Regions from separate parts of the Homo sapiens genome. Here region 2 is linked to region 1. Evidence: fine-mapped expression QTL. A gene starts in region 1. The other region holds a variant in brackets. All regions are shown on one strand. Distances are between the middles of the regions. Region 1 holds the start of TRIM8 (tripartite motif containing 8). Region 2 overlaps SUFU (SUFU negative regulator of hedgehog signaling).

Region 1 (8,000 bases):
CCAGCAAAGGCCCTTTAAGGCAGACTCCCTCCGGGAAGAGAAAAGGGGCCAAGGAAGAGCGCTCCACCCACTCCCCCTGTTTGGCCTACAGAGAGTGCAGAGGGTTCTTCCATTTAGGTTCCTATGGTTCACCCCCTCCTCTCCCTCCTGGGAGGGCAGGCAGGGCCCCTATTCCTCCACATTCAATAAGTCAAACTCATACTTGAGTGACACTGGGCTACTGAAGGGTTTCCAACCCCAGTGGCCTGGGGCACCAGAAAGAATCAGGGGCCTGGGGAGGGGGAACCTGGAGAAGGATGAGGCTCAGGCTGCCACTGCAGGGCACAGCTGCTGAACGCACAGAATTGCACATCTGGCCCTGATGCAACCCACTACTTCTGAGCCTGCCCACACCAGGCACAAGAAAGCACGCGCATGCACGCGCACGCACACACACGCACACACGCACACACACACCCTGCGGAGTTGCCGACAAAGTTCAGTGCCTGCTTCCATCCAATCCACGAGTCTGGAAATGAGGGGCCTGCTGGGGGGCACCCCAGGGAATACTCTGCATGCACATGCCACCCACCCACCCCTGCCTGTGCCCTGAACTGTAGAGACAGGAGACAGGTGCATTGGAGGGCGAAGCACACAGTCTCAAAGACATTCAAAAACACAGACACCTAAAGCTATCCTCCTACACCAAGTCAGGTATAATGACGTTTTCTCCCCCACCCCAATTAAAGACATCCCTAGAACTCAGACCAGCTACAGCAGCACTGTGGGTGCGGGCAGGCATCCGCCCATCGCCCAGGTTGCTGCCCCTCCCCTGTTCCTTTCAGCCACATCTCCTTTCCCCTCCTCTCATTTTCCACTGCCAATCCCAGGACAGAACTGGACAGCCCTCCTTTCTCCTGCCTCTGCACTTTTCCCGGCCTCCTCCCCCAGCCCTTCCATCTTTATTAATAGCAGCAGCTTCCCAATACTGGGGAAAGTGTGGGCTGTGCCTGCCCTGAACGGGGATGGAGGACACAGGGGGTGGAGGACACACTTCCTTTAAGAAACCAGAGGCCTATCCTGGCACACAAACCCAGGGCTAGTCCATCCGATTGGAAACTAATTATACAGCAAATCGTATTTGCTGCCCCCGCCCCAGCCTGTGGTGGCCCTCCTGCCTTTTGTTGGTTGTATGTGTATGTTTTTTAATTGCTAAACAGTGACTCATTCTGACTGGTCCCCCCACACAGGAAACAGCCCCATCTCCAATCATGCCCTGAACAGAGCTTCCTCATAGCCAGCCTCCGCACTGGCCTCCACTAACCTCCAGGGATCCCCACCCAGAGACACTCCCAGTCCCACCAGAGTGCAGCCTAGCCCCCAGATATCACACCCAGGCCCCAGGCCCCAAGGTGGGGCTTCAGAGAGGACTCCTCGGTGTCAGGCCAACCCCTTCATTTTGGTATGACTCAACCCTGAAAGCCAGAGGACTGGGGAGGGACCTAGGAGGAGCCCCCTCCACTGAAGGGGACGGAAGTATTGCCTCAGTCCAGCTCCAAAACCAGGCCCAGAGGCCTGAGGGGGGAGGCGGTTTGACATTGGCCGCGGCCGCAGGGTGTATACAATGGGAGGGGACGCGGTTCCGTAATCACCCAGCCGGCAGCCCAGGGGAGCCAGCTGCCTGAAACCAGATTTCAAGGCGGCTCAACCTTAAACCCACAGGATTCTTTTTCCGTCTTCCACTTCCCCTCCCCAAATGTGGGAGGGCGGCGAGAGGGCTGTGCTAGGCGAAAGGGCCAGGATGATGAAGACAGATACTTGAAGGCTTGTTCATGCGGCCCGTGCGACACACAGGCACACAGGGCAGCGATTCTCACACAGGGAGAGCCGGCTCTCGGGAGGAATCCAAATAGCGGAGCCGCTGTCGGGGCCTCGCTGGCTGCCCAGGCCCTGTCCAGAGAGACGGCCGGAGTTCTGCTCTCCCTCTGGAAACTCCCCCCACTCCCCCCCCAGTGTGTTTCCAATAGCGCTGAAAACTAACATGGCTGCTTTTGTTTACTTCCTCATTGGTATGCCAGCATCATGGATCATGTCAGCCACAGCAGCGGCACCGGGACACTCATTACATAAACAGCAGCTGGAGAGGCAGGACCGGGGTCACTGCCTCGGTGACTTCCCGTAGGGCCTACAGCAACAAGACTGGGGGAGGGAGCTGCGCACCACAGAAAAGCAACACCCAGACTCTACCCCTGACGGTCCCACACCCCAATCCCATAAAGCACTCAGAAGACGGACCCTGTGCGCACAGGTGCGAGAATGTACCAAGTAGCGACCCGGGGCCCTTCTTCCCAGGACCCTGTCCCCAAACTTTCAGAGAAGAGTTTGGCCAGGGGCCACTGGCCTGATGTCACAAGAGTCAGCCTGTCGGGATGGGTGGTCCCGGGGCGGGAGAGAGGAAGGGACTGTGTGTCTGTGTGTGTGTGTGTGCGCGCGCGCGCGTAGGGTACTTGCCCGGATTTCATTCCTTCGGATCTCCACGTCGCACACCGAGTGTCCCTGATGCGCGCCGCTGTAGTAGCAGCAGTACTGGCACACGGCCACCTGCTCGGCCTCGCAGTGGTAGAGGCGGTAGGCGTTGTGCTGCGGGCAGCTCCAGGCCCGCACGTCGTCCGCCTCCACCAGGAGGTGCCCGCGGGCGGTGGAGGGCTGCTGCAGGTGCGTCTGCACGTGGGACTGGCAGCAGGGCGCCTCGCAGCGCAGGCAGACCTTCTGCGCGGGCAGCGGGGGGCCGCGGCGGCAGAACACGCAGTGCAGCGCCGCCGGCGGCTTCTCCACGTGCAGGGCATTGAACTTCTCCACGATGTTGGTGAGCTTCAGGTTCTTCTCCAGGCCCGGCTTCTGGTTGTAGGCCTGGTTGCACTCTGGGCAGCGTACGAGGCCGCTGTCCTTGGCCCACGCCTCGCCGATGCAGCCCCGGCAGAAGTTGTGTTTGCACGGCAGCTGCACTGGCTCCACGAAAACGTGCAGGCAGATAGGGCAGATGAGCTCCTCCTCGAAGCAGTTCTTCCAATTCTCCGCCATGGCGGCCGCGGGCAGGGGGCCGGGGCAGGCCTCCCCGACTCCCCAGCCCCGGGGGTCCGTCCGGAGCCGCTGTAGGCCCACCGAGCCCCGAGCTCCGGCCCCAGCCGGCCCCGACGGTCGCTCAGTCAGCAGCGCCTTCCGCGTGCCCGCCCCCCGGAGGAGGGAGCCGCGGTCCTCACGCCGCGCGCGCAGCGGGCTGCGTCTCCTCCTCCTCCCGAGCGCCTAGCGGGAGGCGGCGGACTGCGCCAGGGCCGCGGCCGGGACTCCAGCCTTGGAGGGGAGCGCCGGGGTCCAAATTCCATATAAGAGGCCGCCTCCCCGTCGGCGCGGCTAGGGCAGTGGCGGCCCGCGGCCTGCGCTCGTCCCCGCGGCTGACATTGGGGCGCGCCCCGCGGCAGACGGAGCTTGGGAGCAGCACACTTCTTCCGGCGGCGGCGGCAGCGGCGGCTCCTGCCTGGCTCGTCGGCGCCGCACCTCCCTCGCAGGGGCCGGAGCCCGGGGTCTGCGGGGCCAGGAGGCGAGGGCGGCCGCGCCGAGGGCTGCTAGATCCGGACGGGGCGGGAGGGGCAGGCCGGCGGTCCCCGGGCCACGGTGCAGGCGTCCCCCGGCTGGCTGGCCGGGCGCGGGCTGCGGGGCGCGGGCGGGCCGACTCCGGGGCGCTGCGTGCGCGCAGGGGCAGTCATTCAGATGAAATTCCAGTCCCCGGCCAGAGACACCAGCCCGCCTCTGCCTTCCTCCTCCCTTCACAAATAGAAACGGAAGGGGGAGGGAGAGAAGTGGAAAAAAAGGCAACCGGCGAGGGAGGGAGGGAGAAGCCCCGGCGGCGCTCCGGCCTGACCCCCGGGCGGCTACTTCTGCGCTCCCCCGAGGCCCGGCGCCCCCGCCGCGGAGAGACCCCGCGCGCCCGTCTCCGCGCTGGGCGGGCGCCCGGGCTCTGCCGAGGAAAACAAGGATTGATCAAACTAGAAAGGAATTTTTCTCAACTGCTAATGAACAGGAGGCTCGGCTCCCGGCCCTCCCCTCCCCTCCCCCGGCCCTCCCCCTTCGCCCCCCCGGCCCCCTCCTCCCCACTTTCTTTTCTTCTCGGCCTCTGCTGGGGCCTGGAAGGCTCGGGGCTGCGGTCGGAGCCAGCCTGCGGCGGCGGGGCCAGGCCGAGCCGCCACCCTCAGCGCCCAGCCATCTTGGGCTCCGCGGCGGCGGCCGGGGTCTGGGCGCGCTCGCTGAGGGCCCCGCGGCGTCCTCTCGCTCCTGATTCTTTTTTTTTTTTTTTTGGTGGGATTTTTTTTTTTCCAAGGGGAGGGCTGGCGGCCTCCAACAAATTAGGAGAGAGAGAGGGAGAAAATGCCAAGTCCCGATTTCTCTCCACCTCTGCTCCACCCACCCCGGTCCTGTCCAAAAAATAAAAGAAGATGAGAATTGGAAGAAGTCGGCAGAAAGGCGAGAGCCCGCGGTCCCCGGCTGCTGCCCAGGCGACGCGTCCGGGGCGGGCCCGCACCCGTTGCTCGGTCCGAGGTCCGTCTGTCTGCCCGCGGCTTCTCAAGGGAGGGGAGGGCGCTTCGGGCAGGGTCTCCGCAGCCGCTGTCGCCTCAGAGCTTTATCCTCAGATCAAAAAAGAAAAAACAGGAAGAAAAAAATCCCAACCCCAACACTCTCATCACAGCCACCTTCAGCCATCTTGCGCGTATTATTATTTCAGGAATAATCTGTTTAATAAAAATACCTGCGTATCCAGCCCCTCCCCCGCGTCCTGGGGTCCCCGCCCCCTTTTAATAATAATCTCGATAATAAAAACGATCGGCGGGCCGGGCAGTCCGTGGCGGCCCTTTCCTGCCTCGACTTGCTCGGGCCCGGCTCTCCCCCCGCGAAGGGGCGCCCCGGGGTGGGGGTGCGTCCCCGTCACCCGCGCGGGGAGGAAAGGGCGCCCTCGCCGCCGCCGCGAGGAAGGCGGCGGCGGAGATGCCGCGGCCCGCGGGACCAGCCGGAGGGGCACTCGGGGGTCCCGGGGCCCCCGCCACGGCCCGGCCTGGGAGTCCGCAGCCGGCCGTATACAATGGGTTCGGAGCAGAGCGGGGCAGGCAGGGTGGGGAAACGGGAGGGCCAGGGGCTGCAGCGAGCCGAGCTCCCGGGCTGGGGCGGAAGGAGACGGGGGGTGGTGTCCCTACATCAAGGCCGGTCCCGCTACTCGGGAAGGGGGCGGAGAGCTGCGGCGCTGGGGGGCGAGGAGAAAGCGGCAGGCGGCGCCTTTAATCGGCACCCGCCGGTTCGGCCCACCCGGCACTGGCGAAAGAAACGGGCGCGGTGGGGGGGAAGGGGCGGGGCGTGCTTTCCGGAAGTACAGTTACAGGGCCGGGCGCCCGGCTCCTCCCCCTTTCCCTGTCGCGTTGGGGCTGTTCCGGAGGCTGCTCCTGCTATTGGCCCACAAGCTGAGGCTCCACCTCCCTAAGGCGGGGCAGACCCGAGAGTCTCACGTGACTCTCACAAACTTCGGTACATTAAACATTGGGATGGGAGGGGGTTTTCCGCGCTTGTTAAAAAAGCGATGATGCCACGGCGTAGTGGGACCACCTCTTCCTGGGCCTGAAGTGAAGACCCGTGGCTCTTTTTACCCAGAGGGAAAGGAGCGTTTGTCGGTCTGCTCAGCAGTCCGGTGGAACTGAGCAGGGAAATGCAAAGGTTCAGTGTGGGGAGATTTCCCGATGTCCTTAATACTTTTAACTTCATCCCTGGCACTTTAAACTACCTAGCAAGATAGGCATTTATTCCTCTATTAATAAGGAAACCATGGCTTAAAGAACTGCAGAAATCTGCCAAGGTCAATGGTCAGTCAATAAATCTTTAACAAAATATTTTTCTAGGCCCTGAGAATTCCCAGAAAAACGTACAAAAAATTTAACGTAAATACACGGAGGACAATTTACGTGATAGAGAATAACAGGCTCACACAAAGGCTTTCTGAAAAAGTGACATTTGAGCTGGGACCTGAATGCACACAAAGAGTCAGATAGGTGAAACCTGGGGGAGGAGCGATCCAGTCGGAAGAAAAAACAAATGCAAAAGCAATAGAACAGGCAGGTTCCAGGACAGAAAGAAGGCCATGTGTCCAGGAAGAAAGGTAGGGGCCAGAACACACAGGGCCTTCCTTATATATCTATTATATATTATATAATAGTACGCTTATTATAAGTGTGCTATATAAGTATAGTATAAGATACTATATATTATAAGTACACTATAAAAGTATAGTATACTATTATATATAGTACATATTATATCTAGTATAGGATATACAGTATATGGTGATAAGTATATAGTATAAATATACTATATGTATTATATGTATTTATAGTGTATATTATATATGCTATAATATACCATGTTATATATACCATACCATATATTATATATACTATAATATACCATATATATACTATACCATATATTATATACTATAATATACCATATATACTATACCATATATATACTATAATATACCATATATTATATATACTATAATTATTGTTTTTTGAGACAAGTTTCACTCTTGTTGCTCGGGCTGGAGTGCAATGGCGTGATCTCGGCTCACTCCAACCTCCGCCTCCAGGGTTCAAGTGATTCTCCTGCCTCAGCCTCCTGAGTAGCTGGGGTTACAGGCATGCACCACCACGCTTGGCTAATTTTGTATTTTTAGTAGAGACAAGGTTTCACTATATTGGTAAGCCTGGTCTCAAACTCCTGACCTCAGGTAATCCAGCTGCGTTGGCCTCCCAAAGTGCTAGGATTACAGGCGTCAGCCTCCATGCCAGGCTATACTATAATATTTATACTCTATATTTTTCCCTTCTATCCTCCAAAAATGTTTTAAAAATGATTCCTAGGATTTGGATCTCAACAAAAGGCTGATGGTAGCACCATTTACTAAAAAGGGGAAAATTGAACAGGATTAGATTATTTGAGTAAGGGTATTTTCTTTTCTTCTCTATTTTCTCTTTTCTTTTCTTTTCTTTTCTTTTTTTTTGAGACAGGGTTTCACCCTGTTGCCCTGGCTTGAGTGCAGTGGCGCAATCATGGCTCACTGCAGCCTCAACTTCCCAGGCTCAGGTGATCCTACCTCCTCAGCCACCTGAGTAGCTAGGACTACAAGCTCACAAAACAGCCCAGCTAAATTTTTGTATTTTTTTGTAGAGTGAGGGTTTCACCATGTTGCCCAGGCTGGTGAGTAAAGGGATTTTCTAAGTTGAGTTGGCTCATATCCCAATGGAAATATTGAGGAGACAATTGTATATACAGGCCCAGTGGGGATGTTTGTCCTGGAGATAGGGATTTTGGAGTCATCAAAGATTATGTTCTAAATGGTAGAACTGAGATTGAAATCTAGTTCAGTATGACCCCTGGGTCCCTGATCCTCTGATGACAGAGCCTGTCTTTAGTGTTTTGTATCTCTTCACATGGGGGGTTATATGCAGGGCAAGTGAATATGTGAATAAATGAATGAATGAACAAACAAGGAGAAAGTGGCTTCTAAGCCCTAATCCTCAATTCCATGCTGTAAGGATGGTGCAAAGAAAGAAGGTCTAGCTTGGAAGCAGTTGGAGGGCCCTTTCTGACCTCCTCACCAGTGACCTCCAGGATAAACAATCTAAACAATTCCTCACTTCTTGTCTTTTTTGAACACTCCCCTTAACTTGTAAGATATCATATGCTTGTCGTTTTCTTCTTATCTTCTAATCATAGATGTCTCCAATTTCCATCTCATAAATGTTGGCAGTCTTCAGAGTTCTGCTTTCCATCCTCTTCTCTTACCAATCTACACCCTGGGGCTATCTCATTTACTCCTGAGCTTTATTACCATCTACATGCTGATGACTCCCCAGTCAGTATCTCCAGGCTAAATCCTCACCTCCTGGTTGCAGATCTGTGTAACTGGCTATGCTGTCTGCACA
Region 2 (8,523 bases), 73 kb after region 1:
GAGAAAACACATCTTTTGTTCATCTTGCTAATTAGAATCCAAATTTAAGAATATAACATTTTTACTTATTTGATTTTATATTTGTATCTTTTATTTATTTTATTACTGTTTTAGAGACAAGGTCTCACTGTGTCACTCAGGCTAGAGTGTAGTGGCACAATTACAGCTCACTGCAGGCTCAAATTCCTGGGCTCAAGCAATCCTCTCGTCTTAGCCTCTCAAACAGCTGGCACTACAAATGTGAGCCACAACGCCTGGCCATATATTTGTATCTTTCTAATCTTATGCTGAACATCTTGCTTTCTAACATAATTACTTATTTGCTTTATCCTATTATATCCATATACTAGTTTTAGGTTAAAGTCAATATTTTTATTAACAACATGATTACTGAAAACAGTTTTTTCTGTCTTTGTGTATATATTAGGGATATACAGACAAATTACTATAGTTTAAGATCTCTGTATATTGTTTTGACACCAATTTGGTATGCTGTGAATTTCACTTGTTTTATTTTGCTTCTGAGTTTTAGGAAATGTGGCAGACAGACTCTAAGGTGCCCCCATGGTCCCCAATCCCCTTGGTACTCAAGCCCTGTCTAATACTTTCCCCCAAGTGTGGGCGAGACCTATAACTTGCTTCTTGCTAACAGAATATGGCAAAAGTAAAGATATTTTAAAGATGTAAAGTAACATCCCAAATCATTTATTAATTTTTTTTTCAGTTTTAGTTGTAGTAAAATACATCAACATAAAATTCACCAATTTAGCCATTTTTAAGTGGCATTAAGTACATTCATATTGTTGTGCAACCATAAGAAGCTTCCATTTCCAGGACTTTTTTTCATCTTCCCCAACTGAAACTCTATACAGTAAACAGTAACTCCCCATTCCACTGCTTCCAACCCCTGGAAACCAACATTTTGCCTTCTGTCTCTATGAACCTAACTACTCTAAGTACCTTATGTAAGTGGAATCATACAATATTTGTCTTTTTGTGTCTGGCTTATTTCACTTGCCATAATGTCTCCTGGGTTCATCCATGTTGTAGCCTGCAGCATGTGGCAGAATTTCCTTCCTTTTATTAAGGCTGAGTAATATTCCATTATATGTATATACCATACTTTGTTTACCCATTCATCTGTTGATGGACACTTGAGTTACTTCCACTTTTTGGATGCTATGAAAACTGGTGCACAAATATCTGTTCAAGTCCCTGCTTTCAATTCTTTTGGACACATACCCAGAGGTGAGATTGCTGGATCATACAGTAATTCCATTTTGAACTTTCTGAAGAAGCACCAGACCATTTTCCACAGCAGCTGCACCATTTTACATTCCTATCAACAGTGTACAAGGGTGCCAATTTCTTCACATGCTTGCTAACATACTATTTTCTGTTTTGTTTTGTTTTTTCTTTTTTTGATAGTAGCCATTCTAACGGCTGTGAGGCCAAAGTAGATGATTTTGTGTTAATTAAAATGGAGGCCCTTTTCACAAGACGGTGCCGAAAGCAAAGAAGGAAGCTCCTGCTCCTCCTAAAGCCGAAGCCAAAGCAAAGGCTTTGAAGGCCAAGAAGGCAGTGTTGAAAGGTGTCCACAGCCACAAAAAAAAGAAGATCCGCACGTCACCTACCTTCCAGCGGCCCAAGACACTGCGATTCTGGAGGCAGCCCAAGTACCCTCAGAAGACCAACCCCGGAGAACAAGCTTGACCACTATGCTATCATCAAGTTTCCACTGACCACTGAGTCTGCCATGAAGAAGATAGAAGACAACAACACACTTGTGTTCACTGTGGATGTTAAAGCCAACAAGCACCAGATCAAATAGGCTGTGAAGAAGCTCTATGACACTGATGTGACCAAGGTCAACACCCTGATTCAGCGTGATGGAGAGAAGAAGGCATATGTTGGACTGGCTCCTGATTACGATGCTTTGGATGTTGCCAACAAAATTGGGATCATTTAAACTGAGTCCAGCTGGGTAATTCTAAATATATGTATATCTTTTCACCATAACAACAACAAAAAAAAGGCTGGGCATGGTGGCTCACTCACACCTGTAATCTCAGCAGTTTGGGAGGCCAAGGAGGGTGGATCACGAGGTCAGGGGTTCAAGATCAGCCTGGGCAAGATGGCAAAACCCCATCTGTACTAAAAATACAAAAAGTAGCCGGGTGTGGTGGCAGGTGCCTGTAATCCCAGCTACTCAGGAGGCTGGGGCAGGAGAATTGCTTGAACCCGGGTGGCAGAGGTTGTAGTGAGCCAAGATCGCGCCACTACACTCCAACCTGGGCAATAGAGTGAGACTCTGTCTCAAAAAAAAAAAAAAAGAAAGAAAAAGGGGAGAGGCCGGTCACGGTGGCTCACACCTGTAATCCCAGCACTTTGGGAGGCCGAGGCAGACGGATCACCTGAGGTCAGGAGTTCCAGACCAGCCTGACCAACATGATGAAACCCGTCCTCTACTAAAATTACAAAAAAAAAAAAAAATTATCCAGGCGTGGTGGCCGGTGCCTGTAATCCCAGCTACTCGGGAGGCTGAGGCAGGAGAATGGCTTGAACCTGGGAGGCGGAGTTTGCAATGAGCCAAGATCATATCATTGCACTCCAGCCTGGGCAACAAGAGTGAAACTCCATCTCAGAAAAAAAGAGATTCTCCTGGGTGGACTTGACTGAAACAGGTAAAAGCCCTTTAAAAGGGAACTGTACCCCTACACAAACGTCAGACTCTTCCTCCATTGCTGCTTTAAAGAAGCAAGCTGCCTTGAATCCTAAAGTTGCAAGGAAAGGAATTCTGTCAACAACCTGACGGAACTTGGAAGCATATTCTTCTCCAGGGGAGCCTCAAATAAGAATGCAGCCTGTATATGAACAAGGAAAAAAAAGAAAAGAAAAGAATGCAGCATGGTAAACACCTTAATTGTAGCCTTGCAAGGCCCTGGCCAGAGGACCTAGAGATAAGCTGTGTCCAAACTTGAGACACACAGAAATTGGGTTTTAAGCCACTAATTTTTTGTTGTTGTTTTGTTTTTTGAAACAGAGTCTTGCTCTGTCGCCCAGGCTAGAGTGCAGTGGCGCAATCTTGACTCACTGCAACCTCTGTCTCCCAGGTTCAAATGATTCTCCTGCCTTAGTCTCCCAAGTAGCTGGAATTACAGGTGTGCACCACCATGCCTGGCTAATTTTTTGTTTGTTTGTTTGTTTTGTTTGTTTGTTTTTTAGTAGAGACAGGGTTTCGGCATGTTGCCCAGGCTGGTCTTGAAATCCTGGCCTCAAGTGATCCACCCACCTCAGCCTCCCAAAGTGCTGGGATTACAGGCGTCAGCCACTGTGCCCGGCCTCCTTAAACATCAACTTTTAACCCAGAGAGAATTTTGGTTGGCCTCATCCCCAGCAACCCAAAAAAAGATAAATTAATGAAACACTAACTTCTCTTTAGCTCAGTCACTGGCCATCTTAGTGTAAGGTGAAACCGTTACTTATTAGTAC[T/C]GACTATTTTTCTTCTATCAGGTCATGGGTGCAAATAGTCACCCAAAATGTATTATGTATACCCTCCTGTTCAAGACAAAATCAGATCCTCTAGTTAAGAGTCTCCTCTCTTAGCTTTATTCTCTGATACGATTTTCTTACTGTGTAACCTTGAAGAAGCCACTTAACTTCTCTGCATCTGTTTTTTCACCTACCAAAACATGATGTGATGATATACTGTACACCTTGAAGGTTTTGGTTTTTTTTTTAGAATCCAAGAAAACAAAATATGTAAAAATTGCCTTGTGTACTGAAAATACTGTACAAATTAAACAGTTGCTATTCATTTGAAAGATCTGACCACTGGAAAATATGGCCACTATTTACACAAAAAGAAATGAAGACAGAAGGATCCAGTAGAACTGAGACACAGACATAGAATCCACCCACATAGGAAGAGCAGATGTTTTCTTCGAGGAGCCACGATTCTAATTTTCAGCTTAGGAAACTAACTCCCTTCTTCCTGCCTTAGTTTACACCAAGAAGCACAGCTATAGTACTTATGGATGTTCTCAGAAGTCACCCAGCTGGGTCAGACCTGGAGGACCTGGGAAGCATCGAGAAGAGGAAGGGGGAAGGACTTGTTTGCAAGAAACCAGACTGGAACACAGAAGAAGGGGTCACAAAAATACCGATTAGAAAACAAACAAACAAAAAACTAAAAAAACCCCAGCATTAATAAATGGTCTCCTTTGGGAGACCGAGGCAGGCGGATCACAAAGTCAGGAGTTCGAGACCAGCCTGGTCAACATGGTGAAACTCCGTCTCTACTAAAAAATATAAGAATTAGCCAGGCGTGGTGGCGTGTGCCTGTAGTCCCAGCTACTTGAGAGGCTGAGGCAAGAGAATTGCTTGAACCTGGGAGGCGGAGGTTGCAGTGAGCCGAGATTGCACCACTGCACTCCAGCCTGGGCAACAGAACAAGACTCCGTCTCAATAAATAAATAAATAAATAAATAAATATTCTCTCGGTTCGGCAATCTAGATTCCCAAATCACCAACTGCACACCCAGCGCTTAAATCCCCTCTACAAGCGCCTGGGCCAGCAACTGCCCAGACGACTAGGAAAACTTCAGGGATGGTGAGTTTACTGCCTCCCAGTGCCTATCCACATTTGGAAATTCTTCTACATCCCAATGAAGAGTTAACAGCTTTCTAGCTCTCTATTCTGAGTAACAAAAAGTCAAATCCCTTTTCCATATGGGAAGACCTCAGCTATTTTTAAATACCTGTTGTGGGTCATAGTTCAACTCCCTACATATTCCATCTCAAAGTCTTTTCGTCTTCAAACTAGAATATTTCCAGTTACCTCACTTTTATAGTCATTCCTCATAGATGGACAGTTTTGAAAGGTTTTGCCAGTTTGAATGCCACCATTCTCTGGACACACTCTGATTGGTTTAAATCCCTTGTTGAATGTTGCACCCAGAAGGGGCTGTTGGGTCAGAGACGGACATGAGGCAGGCACTTACCTCTGAGTATCTGTATAAAGAACAGCCCCTCAGCCGTCTATGTACCTGCCCAAATTTCAAAGTTTCCCTACCAATCAGATACAGGAAAGGGGTTTAGATAACCAATTTTGGGTGATTTGATTATAGGAAGAGATAGCAATAAATCATTAGTGAACCCTTTTGGTGTTCAGGCCAGACTCTTCCAGGACATTTCTACCTGCTTGGAGAGATAGAGAAGGGACTGAGTTGTGAGGGTGAACTCAGGTAGTGCAGGGCTTTCCAAGAGCCACAGAGTCTGAGTAGCCTGTGGGCCTCCAGCCTCAAAGAACTTCCTTAATGTTGGAATACGGCCAGCTTTAAAGCTATCAAGAGTGGGAAGAGTCCTGTGTCTTATTTTACGGACTTGAAAGACTACACAGTGCTTCCTCAGTGCCTGGACTGCCAAATGGCCATGACTACAGGTGAGAACACAGTGGCAGCCGCGGCAGGGGCCACCCTGCCTAGTGGAATCACCTTCAAAAGGAGAGCTGGGCATATGTGCCAAACTGTAAAATCTGCGGACCTTGTGACCCACAATCCCACTTTAGAAACTGATCCTGAGATAATTGGACGCAGTTGCCAAGATGTTCATATATGGGCAACAATCTTATAGTGTTGTTTAAAATAGGGAAAACTGGAAACTATCTGCAAGTTCATCCAGAGGGGTCTATTTATCCTAGAGGGGCCTGTTATGTTAGTATCATACAATGAAATGCCATACAATTACAAGCACTGCTATAGATATATATATATATATATATATATATATATATATATATATGTGTATATATATATATATATATATATTTTTTTTTTTTTTTTTTTTTTTTGAGACAGAGTTTTGCTCTTGTCGCCCAGGCTGGAGTGCAATAGTGCAATCTTGGCTCACTGCAACCTCCGCCTCCCAGGTTCAAGTGATTCTCCTGCCTCAGCCTCCCAAGTAGCTGGGATTACAGGCGCCCGCCACCTCACCCAGATAATTTTTGTATTTTTAGCAGAGACAGGGTTTCATCACATTGGCCAAGCTGGTCTTGAACTCCTGACCTCAGGTGATCCACCTGCCTTGGCCTTCCAAAGTGCTGGGATTACAGGCGTGAGCCACTGTGCCCGGCTGAACTATAGTTACTTAGCTAGAAAGACTTCCATGACATGATGCTGTGTGAATAAAGCATGTTAATATATACAGTACTTAGTACAACTGCCTATTTTTTGTATAGAGACATATCTAGAAGGATAGTAACCAAATAAAAATGGCTGTCTCAGCAGCATAATATTTATTTTTGTTTTCAACATATATTTATTTAAGTTACAAAGTAACATAGGCTTATTATAAGAGAGTCAAACAACAAAGAAATGTATAAAGTAAAACATGAAAATCTCTTTTCCCATCAGTCCCATTTCTCAGCTATTAACATTTGCTGTTAACATCTGATATGCAGTCTTTAAGACTTTCTTTTCAGCATGTATAATCAAAGTCATACTTTTTTTTTTTTTTAAGTAAAAATGAAACTCCACTCTACCCATTGTTCTGCGACAAGGTTTCTTTATGTTTTCAGTGTTGCCTGGATTTTTTTAATGTCCTTTTTGTAATTAGGGAAAACAATAATGTTATATTTGTTTGGGGGAATAAAAGTGTACCAGCCAAGGACAGAAGACAATGAATGTGTGATGTGAGTGGCCCAGTAAAGAGAAGCAAAGGACAAGGTTTTCCTGTGTTCAGATCACCACGGTACTCAATACAGGAGGACCTAGACATGCCCGGTTGGCCCAGGAGGTTGATAGTGTCCTGTTCTTCCTAAATCTTCAAAGCCAAACATAGGCTGCTGGAGCTAGGCCTGGGGCTAGGGGATATTGGGCTATAGCCTCTCCCAGAGATGTGTTCCCTGCCCAGCACAGTGCCCCAGGTATGCAGCTTCCACTGGGCCAAGCAGGACAAGGCAGAGAAGGACCCCCACTGCTGTTTCAGAGTCTACCTGCTGCATGCCAGCAAAACAACAATCCACTGCCTGGGTGTGCTGCAATCCCTCTTTAAAAGCACCCGAATTCCCTCCCTTTTCTCTTCCTCCCCTGGCTCAAGCTCCAACTGTCATCTGTCCAGAGAGAGGGCTCTGTGAGGAGTCAGAAATGCTGCTTGAACCTCATCAGAACCCTCGAGGGAGGGCCATTCTGTTCTCTTGGTCCTTGAGTCCTGGGAAGAACCTAAACAACAAGCTTGTCCTCATGTCTGCCCTGCAAGGCAAGAAGACAGGCCTGGCGGTGGAGACCCACTCCCAGGGAATCTCAAGCAGTACTGTGTATGGCTTACGGGTGCCAGTCATTTTCCACTGAGAGAGCTATGAAGAAACTGAGTAAGAAAGCCACTGCCCTGGCCTTTTTTTTTCTTGACAGGTTTTGGATGGGGCGCAGTGGCTCACGCCTGTAATCCCAGCACTTTGGGAGGCCGAGGCAGGCGGATCACGAGGTCAGGAGATCGAGACCCTCCTGGCTAACACAGTGAAACCCCGTCTCTAATAAAAATACAAAAAATTAGCAGGGCATGGTGGTGGGCACCTGTAATTCCAGCTACTAGGGAGGCTGAGGCAGGAGAATGGCATGAACCCGGGAGGCAGAGGTTGCAGTGAGCCGAGATTGTGTCACTGCACTCCAGCCTGAGCAACACAGCGAGACTCTGTCTCAAAAAAAAAAAAAAAAAAAAAAAGAGCCTGTTTCCTTTTCTTTTGCAATGTGCTTCTTAAACAACAACATAAACTTTTTTTTTTTTTGAGATGGAGTCGCTCTGTCACCCAGGCTGGAGTGCAGTGGCACAATCTCGGCTCACTGCAACCTCCGCCTTCCGGGTTCAAGTGATTCTCCTGCCTCAGCCTCCTGAGTAGCTGGGACTATACAGGTGCCCACCACCATGCCCGGCTAATTTCTGTACTTTTTTTTTTTTTTTTTTTTGAGACAGAGTCTCACATTATTGCCTGGGCTGGAGTGCAATGGCATAATCTCGGCTCACTGCAACCTCCGCCTCCCAAGTTCAGGCGATTCTCCTGCCTCAGCCTCCCAAGTAGCTGGGATTACAGGCGCCCGCCACCACGCCTGGTTTATTTTTTGTATTTTTTAGTAGAGACGGGGTTTCACTATGTTGGCCAGGCTGGTCTAGAACTCCTGACCCTGTGAGCCGCCCCCTTGGCCTCCCAAAGTGCTGGGATTATAGGCGTGAGCTACCGCGCCTGACCTAATTTTTGTACTTTTAATAGAGACGTGGTTTCACCATGTTGGCCCCGCTGGTCTCGAATTCCTGACCTCAGGTGATCCACCCATCTCAGCCTCCCAAAGTAATGGGGTTACAGGCGTGAGACACTGCACCCAGCCATAAATAATATTGATTGTTTCTATGTATAATGCTAGGGTCTGCATTAGGAACACTACCTATATTATGAAGTAGATATTACTATTACCTGTGTTTCACAGATGAAGTAACCAACTGTTAGAGATGTTCAATTTTGGTCCTACATGG

The links. PIP is the estimated chance that this variant, and not a neighbour inherited with it, causes the effect.
Region 2: its variant is fine-mapped to the expression of TRIM8 in whole blood (TOPMed, PIP above 0.99).

The regions. Positions count from the first base shown.
Region 1 is chr10:102,639,678-102,647,677 of GRCh38, reverse strand. TRIM8 (tripartite motif containing 8) reads right to left here and starts at 3,199. Exons shown (of 6, transcript NM_030912.3): 1 at 2,491-3,199. The coding sequence starts at 3,060. TRIM8-DT (TRIM8 divergent transcript) reads left to right here and starts at 4,489. Exons shown (of 1, transcript NR_186489.1): 1 at 4,489-4,886. RefSeq lists silencers at 1,548-1,764, 3,050-4,029, 4,110-4,209, 4,480-4,539, 4,870-5,499 and 1 more and enhancers at 1,940-2,039, 2,820-2,949, 3,051-3,806, 3,807-4,561.
Region 2 is chr10:102,566,203-102,574,725 of GRCh38, reverse strand. The region is part of intron 3 of SUFU (SUFU negative regulator of hedgehog signaling); the gene reads right to left. It also overlaps the pseudogene RPL23AP58. Among named protein-coding and RNA genes, the nearest start is that of SUFU, 66 kb to the right of the region's middle. RefSeq lists an enhancer at 8,349-8,523. The variant T/C (reference allele first, on the strand shown) is at 3,493.